Linked DNA regions of Homo sapiens. The protein of the gene in region 1 interacts with the protein of each later gene in a biochemical or structural test. Each region holds a gene or a part of one and is shown in the gene's direction. Other genes may lie near its edges.

What was found.
Region 2: the proteins of SET (region 1) and ANP32A form a complex in vitro, tested with the Homo sapiens proteins (2 studies listed by BioGRID).
Region 3: the proteins of SET (region 1) and CHRM3 form a complex in vitro, tested with the Homo sapiens proteins (one study listed by BioGRID).
Region 4: the proteins of SET (region 1) and FOXO1 form a complex in vitro, tested with the Homo sapiens proteins (one study listed by BioGRID).

Annotation. Positions count from the first base shown.
Region 1 is NC_000009.12:128,684,807-128,693,125, forward strand, and holds the start of SET (protein SET), read left to right. Parts: upstream 1-4,415; 5' UTR 4,416-4,776; coding exon 4,777-4,849; intron 4,850-5,167; exon of another isoform or gene 5,168-5,180; coding exon of another isoform or gene 5,181-5,220; intron 5,221-6,363; coding exon 6,364-6,421; intron 6,422-7,051; coding exon 7,052-7,194; intron 7,195-7,855; coding exon 7,856-7,959; intron 7,960-8,061; coding exon 8,062-8,175; intron 8,176-8,319. UniProt on the Homo sapiens protein: Multitasking protein, involved in apoptosis, transcription, nucleosome assembly and histone chaperoning. Isoform 2 anti-apoptotic activity is mediated by inhibition of the GZMA-activated DNase, NME1.
Region 2 is NC_000015.10:68,782,523-68,790,426, reverse strand, and holds part of ANP32A (acidic leucine-rich nuclear phosphoprotein 32 family member A), read left to right. Parts: intron 1-2,507; coding exon 2,508-2,657; intron 2,658-2,891; coding exon 2,892-3,014; intron 3,015-5,831; coding exon 5,832-6,030; intron 6,031-7,373; coding exon 7,374-7,471; intron 7,472-7,904. UniProt on the Homo sapiens protein: Multifunctional protein that is involved in the regulation of many processes including tumor suppression, apoptosis, cell cycle progression or transcription. Promotes apoptosis by favouring the activation of caspase-9/CASP9 and allowing apoptosome formation.
Region 3 is NC_000001.11:239,381,409-239,390,041, forward strand, and holds the start of CHRM3 (muscarinic acetylcholine receptor M3), read left to right. Parts: upstream 1-5,159; 5' UTR 5,160-5,819; intron 5,820-5,832; exon of another isoform or gene 5,833-5,929; intron 5,930-8,633.
Region 4 is NC_000013.11:40,554,263-40,558,641, reverse strand, and holds the end of FOXO1 (forkhead box protein O1), read left to right. Parts: 3' UTR 1-2,975; downstream 2,976-4,379. UniProt on the Homo sapiens protein: Transcription factor that is the main target of insulin signaling and regulates metabolic homeostasis in response to oxidative stress.

The DNA of each region.
Region 1 (8,319 bases):
GGAGTTAGGAGTCCCAGAGTCATGCTGCCTCACCCTCTTGTCATTACATTGTAACCAGCAGTTTCATGCCTGCCCTTCCCCCCATTAAACTTAGAGGTGAGGGCTGCATTTTGGGAGACGTAGCTGGAGCTGGATAGAGAGTTGACTGTTCTGGTGACTAGGTCTGGCTCATAGGGGAGGGTTGTGGTGGAGCCTTCCTGGGCTGGGTGTGGATAGGCCCAGGGCCTGCAAGGAAACGGGAAGCTTTGATTGGCTGAGGGCAGGCAACTCTTATGGAAGAAGCACTGAGGAGGAGTCCTACCTCAGGGCTCAGTGTGGACCTGTTGGCACTTTTACTGGGTCTCAGTCCCTTTTCCTCCACATGGGATGCAGAGACCTCCTGCCCAGCTTGAAACCTACCTTGCTGGGTGAGCCACATAAAACAACTTGTGCTTGTTTTCTCTTCTATAAAATGGGATCCACAGTACTGATCTCCAGGCTTGCTGTGAGTCTGAAATCTAAGGGGAGCACTAGACAGCGCCTAGCACATCATCAGTGCTCTAGAGTGCATTTGTGCGCAGCAAAATGTGGGTGAGTCTTCCTAGTTTCCTTCCAGTGAGCTTCCTGGGAGCATTAACAGGACTGGAAGGGATGGAAAGGTGTGAGGGGGTTCATCTAAACCCAAAGAACAGCTCCTGCTGCTTAGTAGGCACTGATGGCATGCCAGAAGCTGTGCCAAGCACTTCTCTATCCTCACAGCCGTATGCTGTGGACATCCCAATTTTACAGATCAGAACAGGAGGCTCAAAGAGATGTGTATGTGTCTGTGGCGGGGGAGATGTTCCAGGCTCTGGAGATTTTTTGGTCTGTGCTTGGGACACTGCAGCACTGTGGGGGAATGCCAGCCTCTCTCTGTTCCAGTCTTTCTGGCGGTGGGGTTCTGTCCTCTTCAAAGGGAGCCGGGGGCCGGGCGCGGTGGCTGACGCCTGTAATCCCAGCACTTTGGGAGGCCGAGGTGGGCAGATCACCTGAGGTCAGAAGTTCAAGACCAGCCTGGCCAACATGGCTAAACCCCATCTCTACCAAAGACAGTTAGCCAGGCGTGACGATGCATGCCTGTAATCCCAGCTACTTGGGGGGCTAAGGCAGGAGAATTGCTTGAACTCCGGAGGCGGAGGTTGCAATGAGCCGAGTTCGTGCCATTGCACTCCAGCCTGGGCGACAAGAACAACAACAACAACAACAAAAAAAAAAACAACCAGAGGGGCCAGGAGGAGAGGAGAGAGGCAAGGGAGGAATTCTGAGTGAGGGGAGAGGCCAAGAAGAGAGAATGCAGAGCTTCTGGTGTTGGAGACGGGGAGAGAGCAGAGTCCTAAGAGTGGGTGAATAACCTCTCAGTGTGCCCCCGGCTCGCCTGTGTTTACTCACACCCCTGGCCCTTTTGCTTTCTCTTTCTCTTCAACTTCCTAGTGTGCTCATATTTATCTTGAGAAGCACTGTGTGGGGAAGGGCAGGAAAAGAGGGGCAGGGAGGTGGCAGGGAGGGTTGGGAGGCCAGAAAGGGAACCTGAAAGCCCACTCCCCCATCAGAAGGCATTACAGGGTTCCCTGGGACCCCTGCAGGTGCTTGGGAAACAGGCAGATAAGGCACTTAGGAGACATTGTGGGTCAGGAGTGACCCTATGGGTCAGGCTTTGAGGATGGAAGCAGCCAGCCCTTGGCATAGTGTTCTCAGACAGACTCAGCCCAGGAGCGGGTCGTGAAATCAATTTGGTGGGGTGTGACCTGCATTTTAAATAGGAAATTAGAATCACATCACCCTTGGTAAGGGTAAGTTTTGGTTTGTGTGTGCTAGGTCATGATGTCAAAAGTACTTCTGACTGTTGGTCACATTAAAAAAACTGAGGCAGGGTGCGATGGCTAACTCTTGTAATCCCAGAGCTCTGGAAGGCTGAGGCTGAAGGATGGTTTGAGCTCAGGAGTTTGAGACCAGCCTGGGCAACATGGTGATACCTCCTCTCTACAAAAGATAAAAACAAAATTAGCCAGGCAAGGTGGCAGTGGTGCTTGCCTGTGGTCCCAGCTACTCAGAAGGCTGAGGTGTAAGAATCCCCAGAGCCCAGGAGGTCAAGGCTGCAGTGAGCCATGGTTCTGGGCGACAGAGAGAGACCCTGTCTCATAATAATAACAACAATAAAAATAGAAAAACTGTTTTAAGGTAAGGGCTTTGTCAATTGCTACTTGGTTTAGAATCTTGGTTCTGTCACTTGCAACAAAGTTTAGTTTATGCTAGGCACAGTGGGTGGCTCATGCCTGTAGTCCCAGCACTTTGGGAGGCCGAGGTGGGCAGATCACCTGAGGTCGGGAGTTCGAGACCAGCCTGGCCAACATGGTGAAACCCCGTCTCTACTAAAAAATACAAAAATTAGCTTGGCATGGTAGTGGGCGCCTGTAATCCCAGATACTCGGGAGGCTAAGACACTCACCGTGCACTGTCTTGAACATGAAAGATGCTGCTTGAGCTTTAAGAGCTGATAGTGGGCCGAGCTCAGTGGCTCATGCCTGTAATCTCAGCACTTTGGGAGGCAGAGGCAGGTGGATCACCTGAGGTCAGGAGTTTGAGACCAGTCTGGCCAACATGGTGAAAACCTGTCTCTACCAAAAAATACAAAAATTAGCAGGGCGTGGTGACTCACATCTGTAATCCTAGCAACTCAGGATGCTGAGGCAGGAGAATCACTTGAACCCGGGAGGCGGAGGTTGCAGTGAGCTGAGATGGCACCACTGCACTCCAGCCTGGAAGACAGAATGAGACTTGGTCCCCTCCCCCACCAAAAAAAAAAAAAAAAAAAAAGAGCCAATGGTAAAGTGTGAGTTCTGGAAGGCAGAATTCCAACCCCAAGTTCTGGTTAAAAATGTCCAAAGAGAGATTTCAGGTATTTTTTTGTTTTTGTTTTAGAGATAGGGTCTTGCTCTGTCACTCAGGCTTCAGTGCAGTGGCTGCATTGGGGCTCATTGAAGCCTGGAATTCCTGGGCCCAAGCGATCCTCCTGCCTTGGCCTCCCAAAGTGTTGGGATAACAGGAGTGAGCTATTGCATGGCCAGGATTTGAAATTGGCCAGCGTATCACTAAAATCAACAAATGGTACTGGCCGGGCGCAGTGGCTCCCGCCTGTAATCCCAGCACTTTGGGAGGACGAGGTGAGTGGATCACCCCAGGTCAGTAGACCAGCCTGGCCAAGGTGGTGAAACTCCATCTCTACTAAAAATACAAAAATTAGCCGGGCATGGTGGCACGTGCCTGTAGCCCCAGCTACTCGGGAGGCCGAGGCAGGAGAATTGCTTGAACCCGAGAGGCAGAGCTTGCAGTGAGCCAAGATTGCGCCACTGCACTCCAGCCTGGGGGACAGAGCAAGACTCCCGTCTCAAAACAAACAAACAAATGCTACTAATCAGGGTTTTTCTGGCTTTTTATGGTTCATGTCTTGGGGTGCTGGAGGGACAGAATGTGGGGCATCCGCATTACTTGAAAAGTATTATTTAAACAAAATGCTTTGGCCCTCCTTAGTGGTTCAGAACTTTGCCTCTCAAGTAGAACTTGTTGGCCCCTTTCATCTCTATGAACAGAACACCGCCTATCGCTTGGGGCTGTTGTGAGGCCTCGGTGAGATAACCGTGCCATGCGCTGCTGAAACTGGCACTTAACGCTCAGTATGATTCTTGCGGGCGCTGGGCACCGCGGACTAATGTGGTACCTCCCTGCCTTCACAGGACTTCGAGTTTAATGTGGCTTCAGTGTCGTAACCTTTATCATTTCATAACAGAAACGGGTTCAGAGAGGAAGGGTGACTTGCTCAAGGGTACAAGCTTGCTGGGCAGGGCTTGGACTAAAACCCAGGAATGGCCCTGCGCGCGGATTACACAGCCTGGGGCTTCGCACACGAGCCCGAGTTTGAGTCCGATCGGCAGTTCCCCATCTGGCATCCAGAATGGGGTGCCCCCTGCTTTCTCCACGAAGTGGAAGGCGCCGAGAGGCCGGGCGGAATTCGGGGCCCCCATACGAGGCCGGGCCTGCACTTTCGGGGTGGTGGGCGCCCCGCTCCCGGTGCCCCGCGGAGCAGGGAAGCCGCTCGCTCACCACGTGACGCGCCGGCCGGGGGCACCCGCGCCTCCGTGCGACGCCCCGCCCACCGGCCTGCCGCGCGCCAGTGTCCTGGGTCGGGCCGGAGAGGGGAGAGCGGGGGAGGGGACGCGGCGCGGGGGGCGGCCGTGCGTCGCCGCGCGCCTTCCTCCCACCTCTCGCCGGGCCCTGTGTCTCCGCGCCGCGACTCCGCCCCCTCATCCCGCCGCCCAGGCCAATGGCGCCGCGGCGCGAGCCTCCCCGGCCGGAGGCGGAGCATCCGCGCGGGGCCTGGCGCGCCTGCGCCCTGCGCCCGCCCCTCGCCGTAGGAGGAGGTGGAGGAGGAGGCGGCTCGGGAGAGCGAGCAGCGAGCTGGCTGGATCGCCGAGCGCGAGTGAGGGAGCCGAGCCGCCCGCCGCCGCCGCCTCCGCCTCCCCTCCGCGAACAGGAGCCCGGGCCGGGGCCCGGCACGCCGCCCCAGCCCGTCCCTCGGCGTCAGGCCGCGAGGGTAGCGCGCGCGAGCGAGCGAGGGGGAGGGAGAGCGAGCGAGCGCCGGGAGGAGGCGGCCGGACCGAGCGGGCGCCCGCGCGTGTGGCGTGAGGGGAAGCCGCTTGCCCGCCCCCTTCGCCTTCCCTTCTCTCCCCCTCCCCGCTCCCCCCCCGACCGCGGAGCAGCACCATGTCGGCGCCGGCGGCCAAAGTCAGTAAAAAGGAGCTCAACTCCAACCACGACGGGGCCGACGAGACCTCAGGTGAGAGCAGCGAGCCCGGGGGCCGGCCCGCGCCGCCATCTTCGCCGCCCGCCCCGGCCCGCAGGCCGCCGGCGGGGCCCGGGGCGCGCGCGGGGGGCGCCGGGCGGGGGGGCGCGGCGCGGCCGGGCGGGGGCCCGCGGACTCGGCGCCCTTTTTTGTGCGCGGCTGGGCTGGGGGCCTGGGTGGCCCGCGCCGCGGCGGCCGCGCTGCGAGGCGGGGGCGCTGCGGCCTGCTCGGCGCGGGCGGAGGAGACCCCCCCTTCCTCTCCCCCCTCCCTCGCTCTCCTCCCCCTCCCTCCCTCCCGAGAAGCCTCTCTTTATTGTGCTCCGCCATGATGCCTCGCTCCCATCAGCCGCCGCCGCCGCCACATGGTGCGGCCGGACGCGGCCCCGCGCCCGACCTCCCGCGCGGTTCCGCTTCGCGCCCGGCCCGCGGCGGCGCCCCCGGCACCCCCGCCCAGAGGCTGGCCCCGGCGGGGCTTCTGCCTGGAGCTCGGGTGGGGTGGGGGCGCGGGGAACACGCGGGCGGCCGCGCGCTGGGCCTTGGCCGGCCGGGAGGATGCTCTGGCCAGCCCGGGCGCACTCCCCACGTGGGGCGGCCGCCCCGTCGCGCCAGCGTGCGGAGAAACCTGGCGCCGCGACCAGTGTATCGGGGGTCTTGGAAATGGCTAAGAAAGCTGGCCTCTGCCTAGGAGGCTCTCGGCAGGGGGGCTGCCAATCCGGGATGGTTACCGGAAATGAACCGCGCGATCTGGCCCTTTCACACCCACTTAGCTTTGTAGGGGGTTTGTAGTCTTTACAGGACAAAAGGGCACCTATTCCAGAGCACACCCCCTTTTCTTCCTCTCCCTTCTGTGCCTCACTGCTTTCCGATCTCATAGTTGCTCCCAGTAAGTGCTCCAAAGTCGTGTGGGGCCGCATCTGAGGTCTGCCCGCCTGAATTGGGTTGGAGGGGTTCATGTTCTGAGAAGGCGAAGGCCAGGGTGTAGGATGGTGCCCCGTGACTTTCCAGTCTTTGTAGGCGTGCCTGGTATCTTCATCGTAATAGCAGAGTCGTCAACTTTCTATGAAAGGTGGTTTTACCTTGATAGGTGGTAGTGGTGGCCTAATTTGTATCATTGTCATGGGTTTAGTTTCCATATTCTAGTTAGCAGCTGCTACTGTTCTCTTGCAAGTGTATAATGTGAAATAATAAACGTGAAGACTTCTGAATAAGGTTATTCTGTGTCTTTCATAGTAGAAACCTTAATGATCGGTCTGTTGTAGTGAAACTCTTTAAAAAGGCGCTATAGAAAACCAATTTCTGAGTAAACCAGCAGACAGCATGACTTGTAAATGGTCTTTTAATTAATTAAAAAGAAATTAGTCAGCTACAAGCATGAACATGTGGAACGCTTGCCTTTGTACTAGGCGTTTTTGTTTTTGTTTTAATGGCTTTTGGAATATTATAGTATTAACATCTGGAAAACTAGGTAAATTTATCTTAGAATTAAGTTTTTTGCTCCTTTTTTGCAGAAAAAGAACAGCAAGAAGCGATTGAACACATTGATGAAGTACAAAATGAAATAGACAGGTAACATTTTTCTTAATATACTTCGGAGAAATTTTCTGAGATGTGTCTAATAGCCCGGTAATTATCGAAGCTATGGTCAAATCTATCCACTGTCAAAGGGGAAATGATTCTAACTTGGTTGGAAATACTTATGTAGATTCAGTGTTTTTTGGTGAAGTGATTGTACAGAAGTTTTTGAAAGTGCATTGACCTTACAAGGTTTGGGTTTGCTTTCAAAGACTGAAAATTGTCTGAATTGCAGTGTAGGTCTTCTGATGGTTTAGCAGTGTGGCATCAGTGGTTGCTCTAACTTGCCTTACAACTTTGTTATGGATTAGCCACTTTATTTAGAAATCGCGCTTGAGGGAAACAATTGAAATTGGACTGGAAATGGAGTGGGCGAAGTAAATACACACGTTACCAGAGTGTTGAGTTTGGGCACTCTTAACAGTCATTATTACTCAGTGTTTATTGATAAATCAGACAAAATTGCCATCTTAGTTTTGAGTGTCTAAATTAGGTGATAATGGTTATTATAATTTGGTTATTTTGCATGACTCAAGCTAGTAAGTAAATACACTCTGTAATCTCAACCAATTTTTTAATTTGTTAAATACTATCATTGTCAACATCTCTTTTCATTTGCTTCAGACTTAATGAACAAGCCAGTGAGGAGATTTTGAAAGTAGAACAGAAATATAACAAACTCCGCCAACCATTTTTTCAGAAGAGGTCAGAATTGATCGCCAAAATCCCAAATTTTTGGGTAACAACATTTGTCAACCATCCACAAGGTATGTTTTGGACAGGGCATTGTTAAAGGATAAACAGTGTTTGTTAGAATGGAGGAAGCTTGGTGAAGACTTAGTCCAGCATGCTGGGTTGCGTGCAACAAAGACAGGCTGGGTGCGGTGGCGCACCTGTAATCCCAGCACTTTGGGAGGCCGAGGTGGGTGGATCACTTGAGGTCAGGGGTTCGAAACCAGCTTGGCCAACAGGTTGAAACCCCGTCTCTACTAAAAATACAAAAAAAATTAGCTGGGCGTGGTGGCGCGCGCTTGTAATCCCAGCTACTCGCTACTTGGGAGGCTGAGGCAGGAGAATCGCTTGAACCCAGGAGGGGGAGGTTGCAGTGAGCCGAGATTGTGCGCTTTTGCATTCCAGCCTGGGCGACAAGAGTGAGACTGTTTCAAAAAAAAAAAAAAAAAAAAAAAAACCTCAAAGACGGGAAAAGATATACAGCTACTGCTTTCTATTCTGTTTAGGAGAAGCTATATTCTAATTGCTTGATGAAAGATAGTGACAGTCTGATATTGAGCAATTGCCTTTAGTTAATAATGGGTTTATAAAACCAAAGATGCTCACTAAGTTCGGAAAAATTTTAAAGGGATCACTTAAATTGTTGTTAGTGTGTGCCTGTTGAAAATTCAGCTGACCTGTAATTTTCTGGCCTAGTGTCTGCACTGCTTGGGGAGGAAGATGAAGAGGCACTGCATTATTTGACCAGAGTTGAAGTGACAGAATTTGAAGATATTAAATCAGGTTACAGAATAGATTTTGTAAGTATCTCTAACTTAATCTTGTTTGCCACTGTGGAAATTAATGTGAGCTTTGGTTGGAAGACCTGTTCATATTTCTAATCTTTCAATTATTTATTACAGTATTTTGATGAAAATCCTTACTTTGAAAATAAAGTTCTCTCCAAAGAATTTCATCTGAATGAGAGTGGTGATCCATCTTCGAAGTCCACCGAAATCAAATGGAAATCTGGAAAGGTATGTTTTGAGGAATTATTTGACAAAAATAGCATTTTGCCTATTTCAGTTTAGTTTTAACCACTTACAAGTGCTTGATACTTTGGTCATGTGGCTAAATACAAAACCTTAAAATATAAAACGTTCCAGTGTGCTGAAGCCAAG
Region 2 (7,904 bases), on another chromosome or scaffold:
AGCATTCCTAGGCAGCCTACCCCAGCAGCAGCCCCTTGGGCTGTGGGCAGGGGTGGCAGGCAGCACTGTTCCTCTCCAGGAAGGAGACCGACTTCCTGGACGAATTCCCTGGGCTCCCCAGCACTGCTCTCTGAGGCCCTCCTCTCCTCGGCCAACGGCAGTAAGGAGAAGCCATTGACCCGTCTAGAAAAACCGCATGTCTGCAGTCTTTGAGGGTAGACTGGAATCTCTTCTCATATTTGCCTTGCTTTGGTGGAGCTTCAAGAATTCCCAGGCCTTCCAAGGAAACCAATTACTAAAGAAGACTGTGGGCCACGTGACTCCAGTGTTTACTGCAAACGAAGGAGATGGCTCCCCTCCCCCAACACAGTTACTCTCCCTCCATCTGCACTGGCCCCCTAAGGCCTGGCTTCCTGGCTCTGCGATGCTTTCCTGCCCTAGGGCAGAAGGCCTCACAGGATTTATTCCCAGGCACTCTTGCCATGACCTTGAGAAGGTGGCTTGACCTGGACATCTGGATCTCAGGGACTGAGGGGGTGGGAAAGGACTGAGCCTCCCCCTCCCAGACCCAACAGGAAGGTGGGCTTTGGTGACCATTTCCTAGGCTGAGAGCTCCTTAGCTCCAGGAGAGGGCTGCGCTCCCTGGTTCTCCTGCTCTGTGGGCTGTGCTAGATGAAACCCACAAATTGCTGCTGTCCCGGGCGGAGTGGCATGCCTCCACCCACCAGTGAAGAATGAAGGCAGGGCAGTTGCAGGGCCCTGCAGGACTCTGAGATCCAGATGTGTACCCCAGTGCTCCCCTGCTCTGCCCACTGGCAAGAGGGGGCTGAGGAGGGGCATAGCAGGCCTCATGTGGACTCTGTTTCCACCTCCTTTCCCCCATATCTCTACTTGGCCCAGAGATGCCTGAGTAAGAGGGGCACCTAGTCATTCTGGGCCCAGAAAGAAGAAGCTAGGCATGTTGGCCTGCTCAAAGGAGCAGGAGCAGCCCTGGACAGGGACAGGTTAGAAAGCCTGGCTGCTTATCCAAGAGAAGAAAAGGCCCTGAGGGGCAGGAGCAACCCTTTGAACAATGCTGGACTGCTGTTGAGAAGGAAGGCTTGTGCCATGTGACCCATTGGTGAGAAATCAGGGCCTGTGCATGGAAGTTCCAGGGAGGGAGGCAACAAATCCAGTTGACATTGGTAAGTGTTTCCTGGCACCTGCAGGGAGCTTGGGCTGCTGTGTCCTGGGCTGAAGGGACTCTTTGAGATACCAGGTGTGGGCAGGGATCACATTTAAGGTGTCTTCCAGTCCAGAGAGGCCGGGTTTCCCAGAAGCTGGCTGCTCTGGGGCAGGAAGGAGAACTCTGGGCCAGCTGCCTGGAGGGCCACACACCGGGTCTCCTTTGCTTACTCCCAGGGTCATTTCATGCCTGCGACCTGGTTACTTTTCCTCGGCCTGTCTTTCTACCTTCTTCATTAGAACCTGCAGTTTCACCTTCAGCTAAGTCTACCTCTTAACAACCCTGTGAGAGGGTGGCTTTTTATTCGTTCTTTCTACCTCATTAGAAATAAAGGATTTAGGACCCAAATTGTGGGTAAGGGAGCTGAGTGGGGAAAAAGACAGGGCCACAGAGGTGCCTCCAAGCACAGACTTTGAGACAGATCTCAGCATTTCATTATGGGCCCATCCTAAGTTTGTGGGTTTCCATTCTCCTTCCACGTCTATGCTGGACCGTGAAGAGCAAAGTCTAGAGCTGTGCTATCCAATATAGTAGTTACCTGTGTCTGTTTACACTTAAATTAATTGAAATTAAATAGAATTAAAAGCTCTATTCCTTAGTCTCACTGGCCGCACTCCGTGGCCACATGTGACTAGTGGCCCCTGTCTTGAACAGTACAGACCGTTTCCGTCCTTGAAGGAAGTTCTGTTGGACAGTGCTGGGCTAGAGGTGGGAGAGCTGGAGGAGCCCCTGGTCTGCTGCGCCTGCCTCAGGACAGGCCACATGGGTACTGCCATGTGAATGCCAGCTACAGCGGCAGGCTCTGCTGTGATGGCAGGAGTGGGTGAAAGCAACTGGGCATGTGGGGGTCTTGTGGGGGCATTGGGGTGGCGGGGCAAGGCCCAGAAGTCCCTAACAATGCTGTGGCTGGTGCATGTGGGTTTTGGGAGAATGCGAGAGCAGGGTTGGAATGAGACCACCAACCTTGCAGAGGCAGCAGGGCTTACTGGGTTTGTCTTCTGCGGTACAGCCAAGGCCCCTGTCTGGAGTGGCCCCCTGGTTCTGCAGCTCGGCTCACCACAGGCCTCCTCTCACCCAGATGTTGAAAAGGCAGAAAAGTCAGGGTGGGCAAATCCATCCTGTGGTCGTTGGCAGCACAGTGATCCGGAAAGCTAGAAGAAGTGACGGAGTGACTGACTGCTTCCTGCGTCTGTCTCCCTGTTCTCTGAGGAGTCCTCTAACACCCTCCCCCTGCTTCAGCCCCATTCCTCAGCCCCGCTCACACGGTCGGGCCTTCTTTCAGGTGAAAGAACTTGTCCTGGACAACAGTCGGTCGAATGAAGGCAAACTCGAAGGCCTCACAGATGAATTTGAAGAACTGGAATTCTTAAGTACAATCAACGTAGGCCTCACCTCAATCGCAAACTTACCAAAGTTAAACAAACTTAAGAAGGTAAATAGAGTGGAGTCTGTGTGTGCTGGGAGGCGGGGGTGGGGAGTGGGAAGGGTTATTACCTATGTTTAGAAAGAGTAATTGAAGGGAAAGCCGGGTGCTTGCACCAACATGCCAGACAATTGCCTGAGACTGCTTTCCCTTCTTGCCCGTCTGGGGAAAGCCGGGCAGCTCTGAGCCGGTAGCCTTCATTTTAAAAGCTGTTTCTGCTTTTTCTTTCCCTGCCTTATTTAGCTTGAACTAAGCGATAACAGAGTCTCAGGGGGCCTGGAAGTATTGGCAGAAAAGTGTCCGAACCTCACGCATCTAAATTTAAGTGGCAACAAAATTAAAGACCTCAGCACAATAGAGCCACTGGTAAGTCATTCGGACCCTCCCCTCCCTGCAGGGGTAGGAGGTGGGAGGAATTGGCATCAGCAAATACTACTTTTGCATTTGTCCTTTTCCCACTTAATTTTTTTGACTCTCATGATGTGCTATGAGATAGAATTGAGCTATTGTTTCTGCTGAGTCCATAGAGAAACTGAGGCCCAGAGAAGTTAAATACCTTGACCAAGGTCACAGACAGAATGGGCAGCTATTGTACGGGTAGCGTAGAACCCTAGTTTCAATTTCTGGTCTCCTGCTTTTCCACTCAGTTTCTGCTCAGCTTTGGAAACCTGAGCTGTAATGTCTTCAGGTTCAGGGCATGGCTTGTTGCCCCTTTTTGGGAAGGGAGGAGCAATCCAAGAATTAAACTGGCCCTGGAGGTGGACTCCAGTTTTCTCCTTGGGTCGCTGGCCCCTGAACTGTGAGAAATGAGTCAGTCCTGACATAGAACCCTGGAATGACTGAGAGCCGTGTGGTGTGAGAGCCTCGTGCAGGCAGGCCTTCCTCAACGTGGTGTGGAGAAGAGTGACCCCTGGTCACCAGTCCTTGTTGCGATAGTGAACAGGCTCTCAGGGGCCTGGGTAGCATTTCTGGCTCCTCTGCTCATCCTTGTAGAGATAGACATCCCCTAAGCTTCACTGATTTACCAGCCAGAAAGGGGCAGGTCATGTTCAGAACAACACTTTCTATAATTACCAGGATCTGATTCGCTGTATTCCTTTGATTTTAAGGAAATCAGCTGTAAGATGTGTCACTGAAAACAACTCTTTTGGAATAGGAAATACTACCACATGAAGTAAATACACCTGTTGTGAATATACATATAAGAGTCACCTCATAAGGCCGGGCGTGGTATCTCACACCTTTAATCCCAGCACTTTGAGAGGGCAAGGCAGGTGGATCACCTGAGGTCAAGAGTTTGAGACCAGCCTGGCCAACATGGTGACACCCCATCTGTACTAAAAATACAAAAATTAGCCCGGCGTGGTGGCACACGCCTGTAGTCCCAGCCACTCGGGAGGCCGAGGCAGGAGAATCTCTTGAACCTGGAAGGCAGAGGTTGCAATGAGCTGAGATCGCGTCACTGCACTCCAGCCTGGGTGACAGAGTGAGACTCTGTCTCCAAAAAAAAAAAAAAAAAAAAAAAAGCAGCAGCAGCAGCACCTCAGGCATCTTAGAATCAGGGAAAGGCCAGGAGGACAATTGGCCACGTTTGCCAAATTTCCCTTCTGGGTTTATAGGGGAGGTTGGGTATCCCTCAGATTGGGCTGGAGTTTTCAGGGTTTCTGTCCCAAAAGGCACTCCTTGCTCTCCATGGATGCTCACGGGACTTGCTGGTGGCCAGTGTGGCAGAAGAGGACACTGGCATTTCTTTTCCAAGCTCTTTACCTGTCCATCGATGGCATTGGGGCCAACTAGTAGAATGTGCTTCCCACAGAACTTCTTTTCAGGCCTTTCACTGGTCTCCTAGGAAAAAGCCAAACTATTTTGATCTGTCTGGAAGTCTTGATTTTATAATGTCATTACAAAAGGAAAAAGTCTTTGAAGTTCTGTATATGGGTGAGGTATGGGGATTGAGTATATAAAATCCTTGTAAAACATTGTGATTCAGTCACCATTAGGGGTCAGGCACTCAGGCACGTTCATGTTCACACTCTCCACTGCCCCCTGCCCAGATCACACGTGTCTCAGTGCTTTCTCCGCCCCTGCTTGTCAGTGTGTGTTGCCTTACCGTCCTGGGGCGGGAAGCTGCTTTTGGTAGCAGGTGCTGGGCTTGCCCACACAGACCACTGTCAAGACTTCCTCCCTGCCCTTGGCTTCTGCTGAGAATGACCCAGGTCTCAACTGCAAGGTCATAGAGAGAGCAACCTAGCTCCCGACATTGACTCCAAGGAGCAATGGTTTCACTCCCTTGTTAGACCTGGCCACCTTTGGAATGGGGACTCAGCCTGGGATGGGATTTTTTTGTACCTGGTGCCTCAAAGGTGGGTGAGGTGGGAAGTCAAAATGTAGCTCAGTTACTTGCAAGCAGTATGACCCTTCACTTCCTGGGCCTCAGTTTCCTCTACCATCAAACAGGGATAACATTGGCTAGAACCCGTCTGGTGTAAAGCTTTGACAGAGCACATCGTGTCAAATACCATGGACAGAATTGGGGTCCTCCATTGCTTTTTCTCTTGTCCTTTTTTGACAGGCAATATTCAAAGAGTAAGAGCACAGGTCTGAAGTTGGGCTGCCTGATGAATTACCAAATCCTGTGCCCTCCATTTCCACATATGTGAAATTAACTAATAATTATTTCTACCTTACAGGGGTTGTGAGATAAAGTGACTCAGTACATGAAGTGCCATGTTAACCGCCCTTATCATCATCATTATCAGATGCAGAAGGAGTTAGTTTGTTAGTTCAAGTTGACTTTTGGTTTCCCTCTGGCTCCTTAGTCTCAGGGAGAGGCAGTAAACCTCTTGGCTCATGCACCAAGAAAGCCCCAGGCTAATTTCAAGTCAATCACTGTTAAGACAGAAGCTGTAATTGCAGAATAAAAGTGTTAACATTGGATAAGGCTTCAAAGATCCTCCAGTCCAACCCCCCATTTTCCAGATGGAGACGCCGAGGCCCACAAACTGCAGGTGATATGTCTGGGCAAACACTGTGGCTAAGCAGAGCCAAATCCAAGCTTCCTTATCACCTGGAAGTCATGGTCTGCGCATGCTATCTCATGGCATCCTTGCCTGTTTGCTAGGGCTGTTCCTCCACCTTCCTCCCACAAATCACTTACTGTTGGCTTCATTTTTCCGCTTGCAGAAAAAGTTAGAAAACCTCAAGAGCTTAGACCTTTTCAATTGCGAGGTAACCAACCTGAACGACTACCGAGAAAATGTGTTCAAGCTCCTCCCGCAACTCACATATCTCGACGGCTATGACCGGGACGACAAGGAGGCCCCTGACTCGGATGCTGAGGGCTACGTGGAGGGCCTGGATGATGAGGAGGAGGATGAGGATGGTGGGTGACAGGGTGCGGCCCAGGGCTGCAGGGGCCCAGCTGAGGCCTTGGGGCTCGTCCTTGGCTTTGCAGAGGTGGGTGGGCTGGGTGTTGGGAGGCCCCCACCCAGCTACTGAAGGCTGGCTGTCTGTCTGGTAGCTACCACCTTCCAAAGCTATGGAGGGGAGTAGGGCTGTCTGCTTTGTTTTCCATAGTCCCTAATCTGTCTCATTGGTTGACTTCCCTAAAAGAACAAAGCATGAGTCCCATGCTCATGGAAATATCCTGAGATTCTCCAACTGCATAATAACTCCTTTAAAACCATCCAACTGAATCCCCACTTCAATTTTTGTCCCTTTTCCAAAGCCCCCAGGGAGTGGGATTCTACAGTCTTTCTGTAGTGTGACCCGCACTTAGACACTCTCCCAGGGAGGGAGGGAGGGGATAGAGAGAGAAGAGTGTGTGGCCTGAGGACCCCTCTTTCCCATCTAGGTATTCAGTAGTGGAGAGGAGGTCCAGAGCTAGAGGGGTTGTGGGGCCCCCTGGTGGTTGCAGCCTACAGCCCCACACCTAGGGGCACAGGCTCAGGTGCTCAGGAGCCCCAGGTGCTCAGAAGTGGAGGACTGCAGGCCACTTGTTGGGTTCCCTGGCAGTGTGGTGTGTAGTCGAGGCCTACAGGAAGGAAGGAGGGAAAAGAAGGGAGTCCTGTTCCCTCCCCTTCTCCCTTGCCACCAGCACAGTGCAGCTTTCCCATGCATCTTCGTGGCCAGATAAAGTTGAGAATGGAGACACTTGCCTGATTAATTAATTCAGATACAGGATTTTGGTTTTCTTTGTTCAATTGGGAGTGTTTTGCAAGATACTCAGAGACCATGTTTGCCTTGGTGGGGATCTTGTGATATGGCAGAAAGGAGCCAAAACTGGCAGTCCCGGGACCAGGTCCCCTAGGCCCAGCTCAACTAGTGACTCGATGCGTGACCTTGAACAAGTCAGTTCTCTCTGTGCCTCAGATCTCTCACCTTTAACCTGAGGAGTTTGATTTGATCTTGCCGCTTTCCCGGGCCCTGGAACCTGTTGCTGTGCTCTGACAATTTCCTGGTGGTCTCGGTGTGAGAGGCCTCCAGAAGGGGCCTTTCACATGCATAACACTTGTGAGGGGGGCTTATCTTTGGCACAACTTCAGGATGTGTTTAATTATGTCAGCACTGTTTTCATGAGAGTTAGTGTGTTCCATCTTTGGACTTAGGTGGGTGTGGGAGGGTCATGAGCCCCACACTGAAGACGCTACAAGGGGCCTGTGCTGTGTGGGGGGCGGAGCCAGCTCACCACTAGTTCTGTTTCCGTTCCCCATTTCGATTGCACAGAGGAGGAGTATGATGAAGATGCTCAGGTAGTGGAAGACGAGGAGGACGAGGATGAGGAGGAGGAAGGTGAAGAGGAGGACGTGAGTGGAGAGGAGGAGGTAAGGAGGCTGGGCTGGGCAGGGCCACCGTCTGCCCCTTTGAGGCAGTCCCACTGACTGCCTCTGTGATCAGTCTTGGCAGCCCCGGAGCCCTGGTTAGGAAAGTCGCTCCCCGATGGGTAGTGAAGTGAGTCCATTTCAGAGCCTTTCACTGGGCTGTTTCTGGGGAGACAAGACTTGCAGTAAGCTCTGGGGAGGCTGGATTAGAAGAGGGGAAGAGGATTTTAGAGGCAGGGACTGAACCTGCTGGGGTAAGCCTGGCCGTTGTTTCTATGTGAAGAAGTACAGAATGCATGGCCCCATTTTCTGCTTTTTGCTTTCATATGCTAATTAAGATATTCATTGAGCACTTAAACTGTGCTAGGGAAAACCAAAGTCTGCCTTGAACTGATAGGTAGCAGGATAACACTGCTGGATCCCAAATCAGAGAGTG
Region 3 (8,633 bases), on another chromosome or scaffold:
ACACACATTTTAAGTGTGCAGTTTGATGGATTTTTACATATCAATTTATTTTAGTAACTACCACTTAGCTCAAGATAGAACATTACCATCACCCCATGTATTTTTATTTCCCCATTTTTGTAAATACTCTCTTCACTCTCTTCTAACCAAGTAACTCTCTAACACCATAAATTAGTTTCCTCTGTTATTGACTGATTTGATGGCTGCTAAGATTAAAATAAAAGTGTGGGTTTATATCTGGACTTTCTATTATTTTCCATTGGTCTATTTTACTTTCATTCTGACAATACCATAATATCTTGATTTCTGTAGCCTTATAATAAGTTTGGAAATCTGATAGTAAGTCTAAACATCCAATTTTATTCTTCAATAATGTTTTATCTTGGTTCCTCGTATATACATAAAAATTTCAGAATCAGCTTATTAATTTACACACACACACACAGCCATTTATATTTAATGTAATGAATAACACAGTTGAGTTTTAAATTTACTATCTTATTATCATTTTCTCTTTGCCCTATCTGTTCTTTGTTCATTAATTCCTCTTTTCCTGCATTCTTTTACCTCAGTCAGGTATGGTTTATAATTCAATTTTATTTTCTGTATTACCTTTTTTGTTGTGCGTTTTGATGTCATTCTTTCATTGGTTACACTTAAAACATCATCCTTAACACTGTTACCTTAAATTATCAAACGCAAGGATCTTATATTTATCCTTTTAAGGCTGTTATTCTATATTTGACTTTAATAAACAGTATAAGCCCCACAAGATACTCTTATTCTTTATGTGTCAAACAGTTAGTCTTTTATAAATTCTCAATCATTTACCCTTTCTGGGGCTGTTTATTCTTGCTTACATTTCTGTGATTCAATGTGAGACTATGTCCCTTCAGCTTGAAGAATAACCCTGAGTAAATTCTGTAGTTTATAGTCAGCTAACAATGAAGTCTCTCAGTTTTTGTCAGTCTAAATCTTTTTCATTTTTCGATTCTTTTCAATGGACACAGAATTCTGGTTTGATAGTTTTTATTTGTTTCTTTCTGTACCTGAAATATATTTATTATCTTCTACCTTCCATGATATTTCTGCTGAAATCAATGTTCATTTATATTGTTCCCCCAAAGGTGATTTTTTTAAACCTCTGGTTGTTTTTAAATTTTCTTTTTCGTCTTTCAGCAATTTGACTCTCATAGGCCTAGATGGGGTTTTCTTTGCCTGGGGTTCATTGAGCTTCTTGAATTTCTTGGTTGATATCTGTATTAGTTCATTTTCATGCTGCTGATAAAAACATGCCCGAGACTGGGCAATTTGCAAAAGAAAGAGGTTTATTGGACTTACTTCCACGTAGCTGGGGAGGCCTCACAATCATGGTGGAAAGTAAAGGGCACATCTCACATGGCAACAGACAAGAGAAGAGAGCTTGTGCAGGGAAATTCCCATTATTAAAACCATCAGATCTCATGAGACTTATTCACTGTCATGAGAACAGTACGGGAAAGACCTACATGATTCAATTATCTCCCTCCCACAACATGTGGGAATTATGGGAGCTACAAGATGAGATTTCGATGTGGACAAAGCCAAACCATATCAATACCTTTCGAGTTCTTCACCATGATTTTTTCAAATGTTGTTTCTGCTAGTCTCTCTCTCTCTCTCTCTCTCTCTCTCTCTCTCTCTTCTTTCTGCTCTCTCTGGATATTTTCTATTGATTTCTATATGAGACCATCAGTTTATTTGTGTAGTATCCAGGTGGTTTTTAAACCTATGTAATTACTTCTTGATTTAGCAATTCAACAAAGTTCATTTTATTATTTTTATGAAACCTAATATCCTGCTGAAATGCTCTGTTTTTTAATCCATTTTGCCCATCTCCACGGTAGTTCATGGTTATTTAAAAGCCCTTGCCTATTAGTTCCAAAATCTGTGTCATTTCTTGAGCTCTATTGACTGTATTTTCTTTCTTTCTTTCTTTCTTTCTTTCTTTCTTTCTTTCTTTCTTTCTTTCTCTCTTTCTTTCTTTCTTTTTTTGCCATCAGGTACTCTTTTCTGCTTCTTTGCATGTCTGGTAAGTTTTGATTGCATGCAGCATTTGTAGAAATTTTAGCTTATGTTTTCTTCCTCTCATAAACTTTGAGTTGTGTTCTAGCAGGTGGTTAAATCATTGGTAGATCACCCTAACCCTACAGAAGCCTAGTTTTTGCTTCGTTCAGTCAAATCTATTTCAGTTTATTCTTTCTCTTAGGACATCATCCTTCTATCTAAGGAGTATCCTTCAAGGGTTTCATCCTAATGCCTGAGGTGTTCACCAAAGTCTTTCCATTCTGACTGGAACCGAACTCCAACATCTCCTCAGAATTGTGTGATCTCTAAAATGTCCACTCAAATTTCAGCCTCTCTGCCACTGCACTGTATCTGTCAGGTCTCTAGAATAATGCCTCTGGACACATGCAGCCTAGCAATTCAGCTAACGAACTGAGAGGAATTGCCACACAGACTTCCGGTGCTGCCTCTTGGTACTCACCTCTCTGTCACCTTGCTTACCTCCAGAAACCTTAGTTACTTTATATAGCTCCAAGCTCTTGAGCTATATGCCCTCTGCTCAGTGAAACTGCAGCTCTCTGCTTATTCTCAACCTCCCAAAACTTCTGCTGAAAAAAATATCCCCTGAGGAAAAATAATCCATGGGAATGGGCTCATTCCATGTGCCTCCAGTTACCCCAAATTGCAGCACTATGTTGGTTATGGTTCAGAAGTAAAAAATGTTTGATATAGTTTTTCCAGGTTTTATAGCTATTTTATGGTAGAAAGGCAAGTGAGTGCTATTAGCTAATTGTCCAGAACCAGAGTCTCATTTCATAACTGCATAAATCCTTTGCTTATCTTGTGTATTTTTTTAAACAAACCTAAAATGCAGGATTTCTAAGTATTTTCCAGTTCTAGCTGATTTCCTTCATTTTAGATGAAAATCCAAAGGTAAATACTCTTTGGTTTCTGATTTTTGGCATCTTGTAAATAAGCATTGCCTCCAGTTTGGTTCATTCTCAGATCTATTAAGTATCCCATTTATATTTTCCTCTGAAATATAATTTGATAAATCTGCTGAATGATCGGGCACCAAGGTCAGGACCAATACCTTATTCAAGCCCAGCATGAATCCACTTACCAAGAAACTGGAGGCAACTCTGTCTAAACTGTAATTTGTTTGATACAAACATGCCATCTACATTTACCTTGTCCATAATGATAATGGGAAGGTTAGCTGAAATCAGGAAATACTGTATTATGAGTTTAGTGACTATTTACAAGTGGAAATGAATTTAATCTGGTATGATTTATTTTACTAAATTGTAGTTGCTTCCTTTTCTTTTCTCACTAGTCACAAATGATTTATTTCAGTATCTTCTCCAGAACATTGCCAGAGGCCAGTCTCAAACTTAACCATTGTATACATACCAGAATATTTTCATTAAAAATTAATAACTTTTGTCTTTCTCTGAAAACTACATAATCACTACTTGTCCATTCTTTTGGTCCTTGCCTGTTCTTTATGGATCAATATTATCAAAGCTACTCCTGTTTCCACAGGCAAATAACAATTCTATGTAATGGGAAAGATATTAAATCCGAATTCATGTTCCTCTTACTAGCTATATAATGGACAATTAAATTATTCCTTTAAATTCCTTTCTCCTTTAGTACACAAGGATAAAATACTCATTTGATTGTTTTAAAGATTAAAGAAGTATCTGAAAGTAACTGTTATATTTTCTTCTGAGAGGTATCCCAATAAAAAGGCTACAATATTGTTATTATTATTACTATTCTAGTATCCTGGATGCAATTTACCTAAGCCTAGATATTTTAATTAATTTAAGTAGCCACATGCTTTCTCACTAGCTATTTTCCCAGCATGATCTCAATCTTTTCTACGCAAAGTTTAGTCTCTTCTCTCCTAAAGATTGTTCTACCTAGAGAAGAATATAGGTTCAGAAAGGAATTCATATACTGGTGTTTCTCTAATCTCTTAGAATTACTTAATTTTTCAAAGAGCTCTATCTTTTCCTATTTATCTTCTTGTTCCAAATAGAATTAAAATCATTTGCTGCCTTTAATATTGTTAAATATTTCATTTCATACTATGCTTCAATTTCTTGCTTTTTTCTTCTTTTTATCTTCCTCCTTCCTTCCTTTTTCTTTCTTTTCTTCTTTTTCAGTTATCATTGTTATGCTTGTCCTTTCTTGTGAGATTCCTCTGTTATCTTTCCTTATGTGCTTTTTAAACAAAACCTCGAGAGTGCCGTGGGACAGCCTCATTGGTATCTTTTCAAATTTGGTATCTCTCCACTTTTTCCTTACATAGTTAGCTGGCAGTAGTACATAATAACCTTTTCTGTCTCTCTCTCTTTCTTTCTTTCTTTCTTTCTTTCTTTCTTTCTTTCTTTCTTAGATTTTCATTCCTCTTGAGCTTTAAAAGACTGGCTAGCAATGTTATATCTTTCATTTTATTTTCTGATTTAAAAAAGTGTGTGTGTGTGTGTGTGTGTGTGTGTGTGTGTGTGTGTGTGTACGCGCGCGCGCGCGCGCGTGCACGTCAGTGTCTTCTTCATGGATGCTTGTCTTATTTTCTCCCAAGGTGTAACTGTCCAGGGAGGGAAAAGTCAAGTCGTCCTCTATTACACTGCTCTGCAGAAACAGACTCACTAAATGTCAAAAAGTAGATGCATCAGACTGTTCCTTAGAGAAAGGTTTGCCATGGAGTCGTATATTGTAACTGAGCTGAAGTTCACTCATCGATAAGTTGTGCCCAAGGAATCGAATTCCTTCCAGTCCTTCTAAGCAGTCCAGGGAAACCAATTTAAAAGCGAACACAACAAAACTAACAGACCGGCAAAATCTATCTTTGAAGCGCCGCGGGAGGCACAATTTGGGAACAGGTGAGGCCATGCTGGGTGGGTGAGGCCCCCCTCTCTCCTGCTTGGTGTTCCGCTTTCAGCCAACCCACCCCAGGAGTACCCTGGGATCTCCTCGCCCCCTGCCAGGCGGAGAACGCGGAGCCCAGCGGGCACGCGGGAATGGAGCTAGGCGCCGGCAGGGCAACTGGGCATGCTCAGAAGCCGGGCAGGTTTTGGTCTCAAGCACGCAGCCTGTGCATTACACCAGCTCTCTCAGTCCGGGGAGGAGGAGGAGCAGGAGGAACGCGAGGAGGAAGGAGAGGAGGAGCGGCCAGCAGTAGCCACGACCGCCACCACCAGGCAGAGGAAGAGTTCGTGGGGAGGAAAAGACCTCTCCTCCCCCTTGGAGCGCCTTCTCTCTGCTTTTGGAGAAAGGGAATACACGATAAAGAAGGAGACGGAAAGAAGAGAAAAAGTGAGGCGGGAGACAGAGGGAAAAGGGCGTGAACAGAAAGGGCCGGAGCGTGCAGGGGAGCACAGGGCGCGGGGGCGGCACTGCCGAGCCGGGAGCGCTGCCGCTTGGGCAGGTGCCGCGGCCGCTGCCCGGAGGCGGCATGTGACGCGCGGCCGCAGCTGCCCGCGGGCGGAGCGCTCTCAGACCCCGGAGCGCACACCGCGGGGCCATCGGTGCCATCGCGGATCTCCAGGCTCCTCATCAGTCCGCCGGGGCCGCAGCAGCGCTTCTGGGAAGACGGGCGATGAACTGAAGGGCGGCTCCGGGCAGGGGGGCACGATCTTAAGGACAGTCGCTCCCTGAACGCGGAGCCGGAGGAGACGAAGGGAAGGTGGAGCGGACGCCACCCGCGCACCGGGCAGGCGCGGAGACCGGCGTGGGACAGCCACCTGGAGCGCAGCTGCCAGGTAGGGACGGCGCCCGCCACCCAGGCGCTGGGCAGAGCGGGTGGCGGTAGCGGCTGACCTGGTTTCTTGCCTTATCTCGTTGCGAAAGGAGGAAAAAGTTTTCGGCGCGGGTAGGAGAGGTCTTGTGTTTGGAGTCCAAAGAAGGGGCTGGGTAGGGACGAGAGAGGCTGTTGATTTGGGGAAGATGGGGGCACTTGAATTCCGACAGCGCGATCTGGTGCGGAGTTGGAGTTCTGGGACTGAGGGTGGGGAACGCCCGCTGGCACTCAAGTGCCCCGAAAGGGACGGGAATCATGCGAGCGGTGGCCGGGAGAGAGTCGGGGACGTCCCACCCCGCTCTCCCTCGCTTCGATTCTCTCTTCGCCACTGCCGGATCTGAGGCTCCAAAGTGCCCGAGCATGAGGAGCTACTGGGCTCCGGGTGTGTTTGTGAGCGCACTCGTGTGTTGAGCGTTTGTCTCCCATCTCCCCATTTGGTTTCCTGTCATTTCTAAGAAGGCTAAAGCTGGCACCCGCCAACCTCGCAGTGGGGCCGCAAGTTCGGATTGCATTTCAGGGGGCGAGAAGGCAAATTTGGCACTTCGAGTAACACTTGGGCGAAGGTACCTAGCCTAGTGCGCATCTTTACTGACCCGGGGAGAGTCTGCACTCGCGAGGCAGCGGCCGCTGGACTGCACCGGTTCTCCTCTTTGGAACACTTCCTCAGCATAGCCTCCTAATAGCGAGGTTAATTTTTGCGTGTTTTTAAACGGCGGGGGCGGGCGGACAGTTGACTCCAGCAGCAGAATTCACTTGTCTACTTCGCGGTGTGCGTGCTGGAATTGAGATCCTGTTCTGCATGCTTGTGCGTGTGTCCGACTCTCCTTGCACGCATTTGGAAGTGGTAGAGGCAGCAGGGATTTGGGAACTGCATCCATATGGATAGGTTTCAAGAATGCAAACCTTCATTTGTCTGCAAGTGTTACTGGAACCTGTCCAAAGGCTGCAAGGATATGTCCCCTCGATCCCCGCCAGTGTCCGTGTTTGCAATGTGAAAGGGCGGCCCTCTTTAGGACAAAAATGTATTTATCAAAGCGATGTGTGGTTAAGAACACTGGTTATTTCACCATATGCTTTGCACAGACTTTTCCTTTCTCTCTTGCCCTCTGAGTTCCAAGACAGATAACCTGTCCCCTCCCCCCATTTTGACCTTTGTAGGTTACTATTTGAAAAATAATTTTTAACTGGGTGCAGTGATTATATAGTCCAGATAATTTCATATTGTGAGATCGTTATATCGCATGAACCATTCATCATTATTTCCTGTGTTTAAAACAATGCCCATGTATTTACTTAAGAGAGACTATGAACATATAGTTCAGAAAGGGGAAAACTAAACCTAGAGCAGATACCTGCATATAAGCGTATTGTAGTGGTAGCACGTTAATAAAAAACTAAGGTATTTCTGTTCCAAATATTGTGGGATAGACGAGGTGTTGAGTGCACCCTCTTGTTATAAGAGCTGATATCCCGAAGTATACATGTGCAAGGAACATGCCTGCTTCTTCAGTGTGCATTCCAACATGCCACAGAAATGTGGTTTACATCATAGCTTCTACCGCCGAATAGTCTATCTTTAGATTTTGTTTACATGGTTTGTCTCAATTAGCTTAATACATAATTAGCTATTGTTGGGCTAGAAAGCACGTTATTTTTGTAGTGGTTTCCATATGGAAATATAACGTTCGCTTAATTACTAATTTAAAAATAATGACATTGCCGGTCGGATTTAGAATGTTTCTCTAGGTTGGGGGGTATTATGAGATCGAATGTAGCACGAAAATAGCAATGTCGAAATATTGTTTTTTAAATAACGTTGCGTCATTAATCGAATGAACATGACAGTTGAAAAAGAAAATGAGATAAAAAGTAGACTTTGAAAAATCTTTATAAATTTTCTGTGTGGAAAATTATTGTAAGGGAAAAATGTAATTTGGGAAAAGGAGCAAATGTGGAATTGGTCAAGTTTTAAAGAAAGAACAAGTGTTATAATGAGTAGTTCTGTATTAAACCTACATTTAAGCTTATTTAGGAAAGTTTGCTTTAAAATTTAGAGAAATCTATGATGAATATTCAGTACCCTACTTTTATTCTGGGGTAGGGGGAAGTAAAATGTCACTTCAAAAGTATTATTTACTTCTGAAGATTATTTAGGCATGTGTAAAAGTTCTTTAGAGTGTACCTTCTCATTTTTTCCTTATAAAGACAAATGATTTAATTTCTTAACAAAGAAAATTTGTTATAAATTAGAGTATGTAAAAATGTGAAGTTCTTTTAATGATATTTTAGCCTTTAATTGCAGGCAACCTGTTGAAAGAGGGCATGGAAAAAATGTGAAATTGGCAGACATAGAATTTCTTAGATTCACACTTGTAAATTGAATAGACAGAAAGTTAAACGATATGGTTAAAAGCAAAGTTGCCTTATGTATTTGTAAATTATAAAGTAATACATATTTTCAGATTTTTAGTTAAAATCTCTGTCATTTTCCCAGCCAACATATTGTTCTTGCCTAATAACTTTGTTAACATTGGCAAGCTCAGTTGCTTACTGCTAAATGGCCTGGACGATTCCAGTGTGACTATTAAGAAATTGGGTCTTGTTTGCAGTGCCGGGAAGTTTATACTGGGAACAGCTGTGGTGTAGTGGCACTTTAGATAGGAGATGAATGAACCGTGAATCATATGAAGATGGAGACTGATCAGTATGCAGAGAAGTGTATCTGTCCTTCACTTATGGAACCTGATTTTATATCATATGATGACTAATAGCATTA
Region 4 (4,379 bases), on another chromosome or scaffold:
TTATACTCTTTTTGTAATACTGTGATGGGCCTCATGTCTTGATAAGTTAAACTTTTGTTTGTACTACCTGTTTTCTGCGGAACTGACGGATCACAAAGAACTGAATCTCCATTCTGCATCTCCATTGAACAGCCTTGGACCTGTTCACGTTGCCACAGAATTCACATGAGAACCAAGTAGCCTGTTATCAATCTGCTAAATTAATGGACTTGTTAAACTTTTGGAAAAAAAAAGATTAAATGCCAGCTTTGTACAGGTCTTTTCTATTTTTTTTTGTTTATTTTGTTATTTGCAAATTTGTACAAACATTTAAATGGTTCTAATTTCCAGATAAATGATTTTTGATGTTATTGTTGGGACTTAAGAACATTTTTGGAATAGATATTGAACTGTAATAATGTTTTCTTAAAACTAGAGTCTACTTTGTTACATAGTCAGCTTGTAAATTTTGTGGAACCACAGGTATTTGGGGCAGCATTCATAATTTTCATTTTGTATTCTAACTGGATTAGTACTAATTTTATACATGCTTAACTGGTTTGTACACTTTGGGATGCTACTTAGTGATGTTTCTGACTAATCTTAAATCATTGTAATTAGTACTTGCATATTCAACGTTTCAGGCCCTGGTTGGGCAGGAAAGTGATGTATAGTTATGGACACTTTGCGTTTCTTATTTAGGATAACTTAATATGTTTTTATGTATGTATTTTAAAGAAATTTCATCTGCTTCTACTGAACTATGCGTACTGCATAGCATCAAGTCTTCTCTAGAGACCTCTGTAGTCCTGGGAGGCCTCATAATGTTTGTAGATCAGAAAAGGGAGATCTGCATCTAAAGCAATGGTCCTTTGTCAAACGAGGGATTTTGATCCACTTCACCATTTTGAGTTGAGCTTTAGCAAAAGTTTCCCCTCATAATTCTTTGCTCTTGTTTCAGTCCAGGTGGAGGTTGGTTTTGTAGTTCTGCCTTGAGGAATTATGTCAACACTCATACTTCATCTCATTCTCCCTTCTGCCCTGCAGATTAGATTACTTAGCACACTGTGGAAGTTTAAGTGGAAGGAGGGAATTTAAAAATGGGACTTGAGTGGTTTGTAGAATTTGTGTTCATAAGTTCAGATGGGTAGCAAATGGAATAGAACTTACTTAAAAATTGGGGAGATTTATTTGAAAACCAGCTGTAAGTTGTGCATTGAGATTATGTTAAAAGCCTTGGCTTAAGAATTTGAAAATTTCTTTAGCCTGTAGCAACCTAAACTGTAATTCCTATCATTATGTTTTATTACTTTCCAATTACCTGTAACTGACAGACCAAATTAATTGGCTTTGTGTCCTATTTAGTCCATCAGTATTTTCAAGTCATGTGGAAAGCCCAAAGTCATCACAATGAAGAGAACAGGTGCACAGCACTGTTCCTCTTGTGTTCTTGAGAAGGATCTAATTTTTCTGTATATAGCCCACATCACACTTGCTTTGTCTTGTATGTTAATTGCATCTTCATTGGCTTGGTATTTCCTAAATGTTTAACAAGAACACAAGTGTTCCTGATAAGATTTCCTACAGTAAGCCAGCTCTATTGTAAGCTTCCCACTGTGATGATCATTTTTTTGAAGATTCATTGAACAGCCACCACTCTATCATCCTCATTTTGGGGCAGTCCAAGACATAGCTGGTTTTAGAAACCCAAGTTCCTCTAAGCACAGCCTCCCGGGTATGTAACTGAACTTGGTGCCAAAGTACTTGTGTACTAATTTCTATTACTACGTACTGTCACTTTCCTCCCGTGCCATTACTGCATCATAATACAAGGAACCTCAGAGCCCCCATTTGTTCATTAAAGAGGCAACTACAGCCAAAATCACTGTTAAAATCTTACTACTTCATGGAGTAGCTCTTAGGAAAATATATCTTCCTCCTGAGTCTGGGTAATTATACCTCTCCCAAGCCCCCATTGTGTGTTGAAATCCTGTCATGAATCCTTGGTAGCTCTCTGAGAACAGTGAAGTCCAGGGAAAGGCATCTGGTCTGTCTGGAAAGCAAACATTATGTGGCCTCTGGTAGTTTTTTTCCTGTAAGAATACTGACTTTCTGGAGTAATGAGTATATATCAGTTATTGTACATGATTGCTTTGTGAAATGTGCAAATGATATCACCTATGCAGCCTTGTTTGATTTATTTTCTCTGGTTTGTACTGTTATTAAAAGCATATTGTATTATAGAGCTATTCAGATATTTTAAATATAAAGATGTATTGTTTCCGTAATATAGACGTATGGAATATATTTAGGTAATAGATGTATTACTTGGAAAGTTCTGCTTTGACAAACTGACAAAGTCTAAATGAGCACATGTATCCCAGTGAGCAGTAAATCAATGGAACATCCCAAGAAGAGGATAAGGATGCTTAAAATGGAAATCATTCTCCAACGATATACAAATTGGACTTGTTCAACTGCTGGATATATGCTACCAATAACCCCAGCCCCAACTTAAAATTCTTACATTCAAGCTCCTAAGAGTTCTTAATTTATAACTAATTTTAAAAGAGAAGTTTCTTTTCTGGTTTTAGTTTGGGAATAATCATTCATTAAAAAAAATGTATTGTGGTTTATGCGAACAGACCAACCTGGCATTACAGTTGGCCTCTCCTTGAGGTGGGCACAGCCTGGCAGTGTGGCCAGGGGTGGCCATGTAAGTCCCATCAGGACGTAGTCATGCCTCCTGCATTTCGCTACCCGAGTTTAGTAACAGTGCAGATTCCACGTTCTTGTTCCGATACTCTGAGAAGTGCCTGATGTTGATGTACTTACAGACACAAGAACAATCTTTGCTATAATTGTATAAAGCCATAAATGTACATAAATTATGTTTAAATGGCTTGGTGTCTTTCTTTTCTAATTATGCAGAATAAGCTCTTTATTAGGAATTTTTTGTGAAGCTATTAAATACTTGAGTTAAGTCTTGTCAGCCACAATGTTGTCATTGGTTCAAATCTGGTATTTCCTTTGGAGGAAAAGGGGAACAGCCCCTCTGGGACCAAACTATAGTCCCCTGAGATGGGGAACAAGTACAATCCTTGATAACAATCCTGGAATACTTCATCTTTGGAATGTCTGAAAGTACATCCGGTTCAGTAATTACTAGGCATATTAAGTCTTATGTTAGAACAGACTCTGCTAAAGGTAAAAACACCTTGAGGGCAAGTTAGGAGGGTCTGGCTAGGAGGTCACAGAGCAGATGCGGTGGATGGAGTGGCAGAACCCCATGGCTAAGGTCATAAGTGCTCCTCCAGTCACTACTGCACACCTTGCTGAAGGGGGAGGATCAGCCCTCCTTTAAGTGGCTGTAGGTGGGAAGTTTATGTTTGCTCTTTTCAGAAGATGTCTGAGGAATGAGCCAGGATTAGATTAAGATGGTTAAGATGCATTTTAAAATCATTGTGAAGCCCACTTTCTCCTAACTTCTGACTTTCTGACCAGACAAGTGAATGAGCTGGAGAAGCAAGGAAAAAGATTATTCTGTTTATCTGTGTAGACACTGAGGGTCCATCCCACTTTCAGAGTATTTTAAAATTTACCCACTTTTGGAAGTGGAAACCCTTTCTTTAAAAGACGTGATAGCCAGAAGCCCAATGTATAGAAGAGATGAAAGTATCTACCCCCATCCCCTGGGGCTCATGCACAGTTCAGTGTGAAAACTGTAGATGTAGTCCAAATGAGGAAAAACCCCTTGCTTATACCCTGGAACTCTAACCAGCTAGCCTTTCATAACTCTGCACATATATACAAAACTGCACATCCAATGTCATTACTTGAGGCCAGTTTCCAAGTTTTACATTAATTGATAAGCAACATATAGCAGGAAGGTTTCCCTGGGAGACCTCATAGGAGGAGCTCAGTGTTAGACTTTGTAGCCGGACAGGCTTCCTTCCTTGGACAGTTATCTAGGCCCTTGATGTGACCAGAGCTGATAGTAGAATCAGGATGTGTACCTAGGCTTGTTTCTTGATCTGTGAATCGGCCACACTGGAAGACCTTTGCCTTGGCTATTGTTTCTCCATGTTTCAGGTGACCTATAACAATGACACTACACTGGTTGGTGGGTTAGGTAAGGTAGGTGGAGGGCTGTTCCGCTGGATACACCATGTTTAAAAGTGGCAGTCTCTGAAGCAGACATCATCACGTACACATCAAACCTTGTATCATCTAGTGGTGCTCATTCTGGGCCCAGGTGTATGAAGGTATATTCCTGGTAGGTTTCCTTATTACAGTTTGTTGTTTTGGTATAAAAGTTGCTTTGGTGAGAAATAGTTTAACACTTAAATTATACCAGTTACATTTATTGAGAAAATTATTGGGAAAAAGCGGATTGGGGT